2 separate regions of the Homo sapiens genome follow, and region 2 is reported to be linked to region 1. The links are microRNA targets in miRTarBase. Many come from high-throughput screens and were not tested one by one. Region 1 holds a microRNA gene; the other region holds the end of a gene's coding sequence.

Region 1 (4,390 bases):
ACACTCAGAATGTAGCCACTCAGACCAAGCGTTCACTCCATGCCAGTCTTTGCCAAGCTATTTATTTATTTATTTGAGACAGAGTCTCGCTCTGTTGCCCAGACTGTAGTGCAGTGACACAATCTCGGCTCACTGGAACCTCCGCCCTCCAGGTTCAAGAGATTCTCCCACCTCAGCCTCCTGAGTAGCTGGGATTACAGGCACCTGCCACTGCCCCCGGCTAATTTTTGTATTTTTAGTAGAGAAGAGGCTTTCACCATGTTGGCCAGGCTGGTCTTGAACTCCTGACCTCAGGTGATCCACCCGCCCCAGCCTCCCAAAGTCCTGGGATTACAAGCATGAACCACCGCGCCCTGCCTTTGCCAAGCTTTTTAAACCAAGGCTCTTGTTTCATCCCCCGGAGCTGTGAGGCAGGTCCCTGGAGCCTCCCATTTCACAGACGGAAACCGAGGCTCACAGGGGCCAAGTGCATTGTCCAAGGGCTGCTCCCTGCCTGGGGAGGGGCCTGAGTCCTTGCCCCTGTGGGGTTCGGGTGCTGAGGGCCCACAAGACCTGCGGGCACCAGGAGGGAGCTGGGCTGGGCTGCCCTTCCCGGGGTCTCTCTGACCCCACACCACACACCAGCCACTCTGGACTCAAAGGCTCCCAAGAGCACCAGAGCACTGCTCATGGCCCAAGCTCAGCAAGCACTTAAAGGGACCGTCCCGAAAAGCGGAACTGGGACCGGGCGCTGCAGGACCAGCAAGGTCCTCCACTTCCCTCCAGCCCAGCCCCGCCCAAATCCCAGCCCTCAGCATCTTTTTGGGGGCCACTAAAGACCTTCTGGGAGATGGCAGCCCAGGACCATAAGGCAATCGAAGAGGGCTTTCCACATGCGCTGAGGCAGACAGAACCAGGCCCTGGCTGTGGACGAGGCTGTATTGATACTTAGAAGAGAGGGAAGCGAGCGGGCTGGAGAGGCTCGGCCAGGGGGCAGCCCAGCAGGGCCCCTTCCCCAGGGTTAGACTCTCTACAGCCGGCCCAGCCCCCATCCCCTCCCCAACATCTAGGGACCTGAAAAGAGGTTGGAGGGGCTGCATGGGGGTGGGGTTGATAGGAGATTAGGGGATTGAGAAAGCCAGGCCTCCTAGCCGTGTCCCACCCAGCACGGCCCCACCAGTGCCAGACACAGGCAGACAAGGGAGGAGGGAGATGCTGAGCAGGGGTGGCAGGAGGAAAGCCCCTGGCCCTTTCTTGGGGCCAGGCAAGTCCTATCCTAACTCCATCTGCTAACTGCCTCCAAGCTGCTTGTGGGTTGTCGGGGAAGGGAGTTTGTGGCAGGGAGGGCCTCTGAGTCCCCTGTATCCCCCGGCAGGAGGAGGCAGGCACATGGGCCCCTGACCTCAGTGCTTGGAGCAGGGCCGCTCTGGTGGGGCATTTGTAGGTCACAGCATGAAGGGTTCCAGCATACTTCCTGGGTTCCCAGTTTCCCTGGGAGCAGTGGTATAGACGCAGGGGCCTCTACACACACCACACGCTCAGGGAGAGTGGCTGAGGTGTCCAGGATACTCTGTCCACTGGGGCAGGGGGTGGCTTCTAAGCCCAGTACCCTTCCCAGAGTCCCCAGTCTCCAGCTGCTCATGGGCTGCAGATGAGGATTCAAGGTTATGCAGGGGTCACTCTCCTGCTCCATCCCTGGCAGGTGGGACCTCACCTACTGCTTCTTTCTGCTCCAGAGAAGAGCACGTCCCCCTCATCTCAAAAGTGCCTGTGCTCCTCCTTCCTGAGTGGAACCTACACTTTTGACAGTTTGGTTTCTGAGGCAAGGCTGCCTCCTCCTCCTGTCCCAGGTACCTCCCCTCAGAAAAGCAATGGGACTTGGGATAGAAGGATCTAGCCAATTCGTTCCAGATGAATCTAGAAATAATCCTTTAGCCTTTCTCTTAGACCCAGTCCCAACCAAAATCTGAGCTTCATCACCACCACCCAGCACCCACCATTCACCACCCAGCCTCCAGCCCCCAGCCCCCAGCCCCCAGCCCCCAGCACCCATGACCCACCACCCTGCCCCCTACCCGTGGCTCTGGCCCATTCTCCTGCTGTCAGCAGTGCCTGCTTGAACAGAGGGCCACACTGAACAGATGCATGCTGCAAGCATTTGGAGGCTGCCTCCTCTTTAAATCACAGACATTTATCCACCAGGGATCACTCGGGAGCCAATGAGGCCACCACCCTGACCTCCCCTGTCCCCATGGGCTCTCTCAGTGCTCAAAGCACCTTTCACTGGGATGCTGCTCTGTGAACATACATTCGCAGGTATGTGTCGGGGATGATGAGAATGTGTCAATATGAAGACAGATCCCTGCCCCTGTAGCCCCTGCTTAGGCTCTATTGAGGTGTTCAGCCTCCTGGGCCATGGTGGTCTGCTTTATCCTTGGGCCATGAGCTTATGAACCATGTCTTAGTTGCATAAGAAAGGAAAAATAAAGATTAGAAAAGAATCAATTATGGAGAACAGTATGAATGAATGGAAAGATGAATGAAGAATGATAGGAAGTAGGAACAAATGGATGGATGGATGGATGGATAATTGAATGATGGATGGATGGATAATTGAATGATGGATGGATGGGTGGATGGATGGAGGGATGAGTGGATGGATAGGTGCATGGATCGATGGACAGGTGGGTGAATGGATGGGCAGATGGATGGGGTGGATGAATGAATGGGTTGGATGGACTCATGTATAAATAGAGTATAACTCATGCATAAATAGAAAGAATTATTTAGTAATTGATGAATGGATGAACAAATGAGCAGATGAACAAAAAATAGATGGATGGACAGAAGAACATCTGTATGTATATATGGATGTTTGGATGAAAGAACGAATGGATGGGTGGATAGATAAATGCAGATGTGATATTTAGAATATTTAACAAAGCATGTGGTACAAATATGAATCTACTGGAATGGGTGCTGATTATATATATTCCTATATTGAACTGTGTTGTACCTGTGCATATTGGCTGATCATCAGCCCAACAGCTAAATGAGCAAATGTACCAAAACAAAAGATGAGTGGATTTATGGATGAATGGATGATGGATGAATGGGTGTATAAATGGGTAAATGAATGTATTGATGGAAGGACACATGAGATGGAATTATGTATGGGTGGATGATTGGATGGCTGGAATATGGACATATAAATGATTGGAAAGATTAATAGAAGGATGTCAGGAGAAGTAGACATATGGATGGATATGGATAATAGATGAATAGATGGATACGTGGGTGGATATAACAAGAGATGAGTAGAAAGATAGATAGATAATGAATCAATAGACAATTGAATCCGTGCTGAGTAAACTATTAGAAAGACGGATGTGTGAGTAGACACTACTAAATCAGGAATTTTGCACTCTCTTCCAGGAACACTTCCTCCCATTTCTCTCATCTCTTTTCAAATAAGAAAAGAATTACTTCTTTCCATGAGGCTTTCATATATAAAGACCCAAGGAAAGAATTACTTATTTCCATGAGGCTATCATACGTAAAATATCAATCCCCTCCAGAACTCCATATGCCTTTACCCTGATTTATATTTTCTGTCATATTTTCCATCATCTGACCTTTATTTATTTATGTGTTTGTTCCCACACTTGAAACATGATCATCATAAGAGCAGGGACTTTGTTAATGCTGAATCCCCAGCACCTTCAAAGTGTCTGAATTCAGTACAGATTTATTGAATAAATATATGGAAGGATGGAGAGACAGATGGATAGACAGATGGATGAATGAATGGATGGATGGATAGATGGGTGGATGGATGGATGGGTGGATGGATAGATGCATGGATGAATGGATGGATAGATGGATAATGGATAGATAAATAGATGAATGGTTGGATGGATGGATGAATGGATGGGTAAATGGATGGATGGATAGGTGAATAGATGGATAAGTGAATGGATGGATGGATGGATAGATGGGTGGATGGGTGGATGGGTGGGTGGATGGATGGATGGATGGATGGATGGATGGATGGATGGATGGATTGGTGGATGAGTGGATGAGTGGATGGGTGGATGGATGGATGGGTGGATGGATAGATGGATGGATGAATAGATGGATGGGTGAATGGATGGATGGATGGATGGATTGATGAGTGGATGGATGGATGGGTGGATGGATAGATGGATGAATAGATGGATGGGTGAACGGATGGATGGATGGATGGATGGATGGATTGATGAGTGGATGGATGGGTGGATGGATAGATGGATGGATGAATAGATGGATGGGTGAATGGATGGGTGGATGGATGGATGAGTGGATGGATGGATGGATGAATGGATGGATGAATGGATGGATGAGTGGATGGGTGGATGGACGGATGCATGGA
Region 2 (4,390 bases), not on the chromosome of region 1:
CCTCCACCTCCTGGGTTCAAACGATTCTACTGCCTCACCCTCCCGAGTAGCTGGGTTACAGGCGTACGCCACCATGCCTGGCTAATTTTTGTATTTTTAGTAGAGATGGGGTTTCACCATTTTGGCCAGGCCGGTCTCGAACACCTGACCTGAAGTGATCCACCTGCCTTGGCCTCTCAAAGTGTTGGGATTACAAGCATGAGCCACCACGCCTGGCCTTTCAACTGTTCTTAACAAAGAGAGTACAAGGGCTTGAGGTACTGCCACCAGATGGCTCATCAGCCGACCACAGCCTCCCTTATAGAGCACAGTCCTGGGTGGGGGTGGCATGTTAGGATAGGAGAGGGAGCAGCAAGGAGCTGTCATGACTGACCCCGGGTGTCCCTATTTCTTCCCAGGGCTGCACTTGGGGCGTGGCATACCAAGTGCAAGGGGAGCAGGTAAGCAAGGCCCTGAAGTACCTGAATGTGCGAGAGGCAGTGCTTGGTGGCTACGATACCAAGGAGGTCACCTTCTATCCCCAAGATGCTCCTGACCAACCACTGAAGGCATTGGCCTATGTGGCCACCCCACAGAACCCTGGTTACCTGGGCCCTGCGCCTGAAGAGGCCATTGCCACGCAGATCCTGGCCTGCCGGGGCTTCTCCGGCCACAACCTTGAATACTTGCTGCGTCTGGCAGACTTCATGCAGCTCTGTGGGCCTCAGGCGCAGGACGAGCACCTGGCAGCCATCGTGGACGCTGTGGGCACCATGTTGCCCTGCTTCTGCCCCACCGAGCAGGCTCTGGCGCTGGTGTGAGGGGCTGAGCCCCTGCGGGGAGTGCTCATGTGGACATCAGGGCCAGACACCCACTCCAGTGCACAAGACAGACTTGCGACCGCTTGAGCCCACTGAGCAGATATGGTGGGTGGCTGGAGGCTTCTCTTTCTCAGTCCCTGCCTGTCTGCCAGCCTGCAGCTCTCCTGCTTGACACTGACTTACTACTTGAAACTTTATTTATTGCACCATGTTGGTGTGGTGGGCAGGTGGAGGGCCTGCCCTGGACACAGGGGCCCTGCTGAGCAGTGGCCCCATCCTGGAACTTGACCAGATTCCCCCCAGTGCTGCTGCTAACCCCACACCACCCAGGCCTCCACCTCCCCAGGGAGTCTCCAAGAGCCTCGATCCTCTGCTCACTCAGCCCAGCCATCCATAGCCCTGGGAATTCCACCTGCCAAGGATCCCAGCAGGCTGGATGAGGGATAGTAGGGCATGAGGAGAAGGAGCCCTGTAAGGACTGAGGCCCCGGCCAGCCCTTCTCCTCCACCAGTTCCCCAGAGCAGAGCTGGAGCTGATGCCTGGACACAGCTGCTGAGCCTGGCCTGGGCCTCTTACCCACTTGGTTGTTTTCTTGTCCCTCTGTCTGTCTGTCTATCTACTTGTCTGTCTGGGCCACTCCTGCCTGTGTGTTGGTCTATTCCTGGGAAGCTCATCACTACAGGCCCTGGCAACCTTCCCAGTCTGTCCCATACTGTTACCCATAAAACTATCTCTTTATCTGTGCTGTGCCGGAATGTGGTTCTTTCTCAGATGGGGGTTTGGGGCAAGTGAGGTGGTGATGCCCTGGAAGGCTCCTAAGAGGGGAAAGGGCTCCCTCTTCCTCTCCTTCCCTCTCTTCCCAGGAGGGGCAGCTGGGCAGGCAGAATTAGCAGGTGACATCACTCTCATGGGTACAGTTCATGCCTTACGCATGCAAATAGTACCCCCTGAGTTGTGCAGAATTCAGCTCATGCTCTACTTGGCAGCCCTGTGAGCAGTGTCCTTGCCACCAACCTGGACTCTGTCTCATCCTGCCCAGCTGCCCCAAGGAGGCTGGCAGGCTTGGAGCTCAGACCAGCTCTTCCTCCAGCTGCAGGGCCAGCGGCTGCCTCTTCCTAACAGCTAGGCCAGAACCCTGGTGTCCTGCTAAAGGAGCACGTGGGTTAGGGTAGGGTGATGACAACTTCTAAGGCAAGGCTAATGGCAGGGACCTGTAGCCTGGAGGACCTGGTGTCCCTTTTACTTTCAGAGTCTGAGTGCTCACTGTTGCCTCCGGGAGTGTGGTGTTGCCTGTGCCTTCCCCATTGCCATCACCTGCCCTGGTTTACCCACACTGGAATGCGGGCCCCAAGTTTACCCCCTGCCTGTCCCCAGATGTTCTTGTCTAGCCCTTGGGGACAGATCACAGCTCCAGGATCTCAGCCTGGGCCTGAGCTCCTCATCAGGAGTGGCCTCTTAGTGCTACTCAATCCCTGAACTTGCAGAATGGGGCAGACCCAAAATGACAGGCTCTAGCAGCAGAAGAGCTTGAGGCCAAGGGCTGGGTGTGGTGGCTCATGCCTGTAATCCCAGTACTTTGGGAGGCCAAGGTGGGAGAATCACTTGAGCCCAGGAATTCGAGACCAGCCTGGACAACACAGTGAGACCCCATCTCTATAAAAAATACAAAGGAAATTAAAAAAAAAAAAAGTGCCTTGAGAGTCCAACCCAGCCTCCTCCTCATTGCCCAGTCACCTCGGAAAAAGCCTTCAGCCCCCTGGGTACAAGTTCACTGTGAGGGGACGATGCCGTGGGATGATGTATGGGGCAGGCTGGGTGGTATGTGTTGCTGCTGTTCTTGCGGCTGGTGTCCTGGATTGGTCTGGGTGTCTCCAGCAGGGTCAACTCCGATCAGGTTGTGCAGCCGTTGTGGCTGGGGAGGGTGCCATGCCTGGGCCGTGTGCTCATGTCTTGGCGGCCTTGTGTCTTGGCCATTGATGGGAAGAGTGTGGAGTCCAGCCAGCTTCTTCTGGGTGCCTGGTGAGGGCAACACAAAAGGAGGAGGCAGCAGGTGGCAGGGAGCCCTGGGCAGCTGCCTCCTGTGTTTCCTGGGCCTCTTGCCAGACAGCCAGAGCACAGCCCTGCTCCATCCTGGGAGCTGATGGTGGGGAGGGCTGCTTGCCAGCTGCACGTAGGGGGCTTTCACCCATCAAGCCATTCGATCAGCAAGTATTTCCTTAAGCTCCCACTGTGTGCCATGCACCATTCCAGGCACGGGGATACAGCGGTAAAGAACTCCTCCTCCTCAAGGAACTTGGAGTCTAGAAACTGATGGTGACCATTCAGCGTGGAATGGGAGAAGAGGGCCTTGAGCACCCAGAAAGGGCTTCTGACTTGAGCAGGGCAGTCAGGGAAGGCCTTCTTGGCTTTCTTGGAGAGGGAACCTGAGAAGGGGCCTCTGAGGAACAGAGAGTAAGGGAACAACACGTGCCTGAGGGGAGGCAAGCTCAGACCAGCTGGAACAGAGTGGCCCGGACAGGAGACACGAGCCAGACAGGTGGCAGGACTGCCGGCCTGGTGAATTGCGCTGTGCCATGCTGCGGGGTGGCATTCCTCCTGGGTCAGTGGGGGCCTCTGGTGGATTCTGAGAAGGGCAGAGATGTGCTTAAGAGAGAACACTGGCTGAAGTCAGATTGGAGGAGAGAGGCCAGAGGGAGCTGTAGGGTGCCCAAGCTGAGGTGTGCCAGTGGGAATGGACAGTGGAGGGATTGCAGAATTGTTTAGGGGTGAGGTTGACAGCATTTGGTGGCTGGTTTGATGAGCAGAGTGAAAGGAGGGTAGAGACAGTAGGGCTGGGGCTCCTGGGACAGTGGCAGATCTGGAAAGAGTCGGGGGTAGATAGCCTTGCGTTTAAGTTAGGGGTGCCTGTGAGGGGAGGAATGACTTCTACGGGGATGTTCAGGGCAGCTGGATATGTTGGTGTGGGAGTCAGGAGAGAAAGCTGGGCTGGAGTTAGAGACTTGGGAACCATACATGTGGAGACTGGGCTTAAAGCCCTGGTAGGGGAGGAGAGGAGAACAGGGCCCGGCCAGGCCCTGAGGACCCCAGCCGCGGTGGTCTGAGCAAAGCAAGAAGAGGTGTCGGGAACAAGCGCTGGAGAGGTAGGCGGAGAACGAGGAGAGGGCAGGGTGAGGAGAGCCAGGGTGGAAGGTGTCTCCAGGAGGTGCACAACATGGTCATGTTGCCAAGATGGCCAAGATGTCAAGAGAAACGAGGACAGAAGAGTGTCCACTGGATGAAATGCCAGGGGGGGTCCCTTGTGGCTTCAGTGAGAGCAATTTCAGGAACAGTATGGAAAGCCACAAGGCAGGGCTGAGGGGCCAGTGGGAGGGGAAGCAGCTTTCAGGAAACATGGTTGCTAAGAAGAGAGAGAAACAGGGATAACTGAGGGCACAGGAGTTGCGGGGGTCTCAGGACCCCTTCACAAATGAAAAATTGTGGAGGACCCCAAGAGCTTTTGTTTATGTCGGATATAGTTATTAACATTTACTGTAGTAGTGCGGTGGCTCATGCCTGTAATCCCAGCACTTTGGGAGGCCAAAAGCGGGCAG

What was found. The annotated mature microRNA hsa-miR-4298 reads CUGGGACAGGAGGAGGAGGCAG and lies in region 1 at 1,808-1,829, opposite strand. An mRNA with a match to its seed (bases 2 to 7 or 8) in the 3' UTR can be bound and repressed. Matches are read on the target gene's strand: a 7mer-m8 pairs with bases 2 to 8, a 7mer-A1 pairs with bases 2 to 7 and ends in A, and an 8mer does both.
Region 2: the mRNA of CHAC1 is a reported target of hsa-miR-4298. Seed matches in the 3' UTR shown: 7mer-m8 at 1,504-1,510.

Annotation. Positions count from the first base shown.
Region 1 is chr11:1,857,698-1,862,087 of GRCh38, forward strand. It overlaps MIR4298 (microRNA 4298), which reads right to left and starts at 1,839; the gene lies at 1,767-1,839. All of the region lies in intron 1 of LSP1 (lymphocyte specific protein 1), which reads left to right.
Region 2 is chr15:40,954,975-40,959,364 of GRCh38, forward strand. CHAC1 (ChaC glutathione specific gamma-glutamylcyclotransferase 1) reads left to right here. Exons shown (of 3, transcript NM_024111.6): 3 at 399-1,538. The coding sequence ends at 800. Among named protein-coding and RNA genes, the nearest start is that of CHAC1, 3.7 kb to the left of the region's middle. RefSeq lists enhancers at 725-1,275, 2,778-3,314.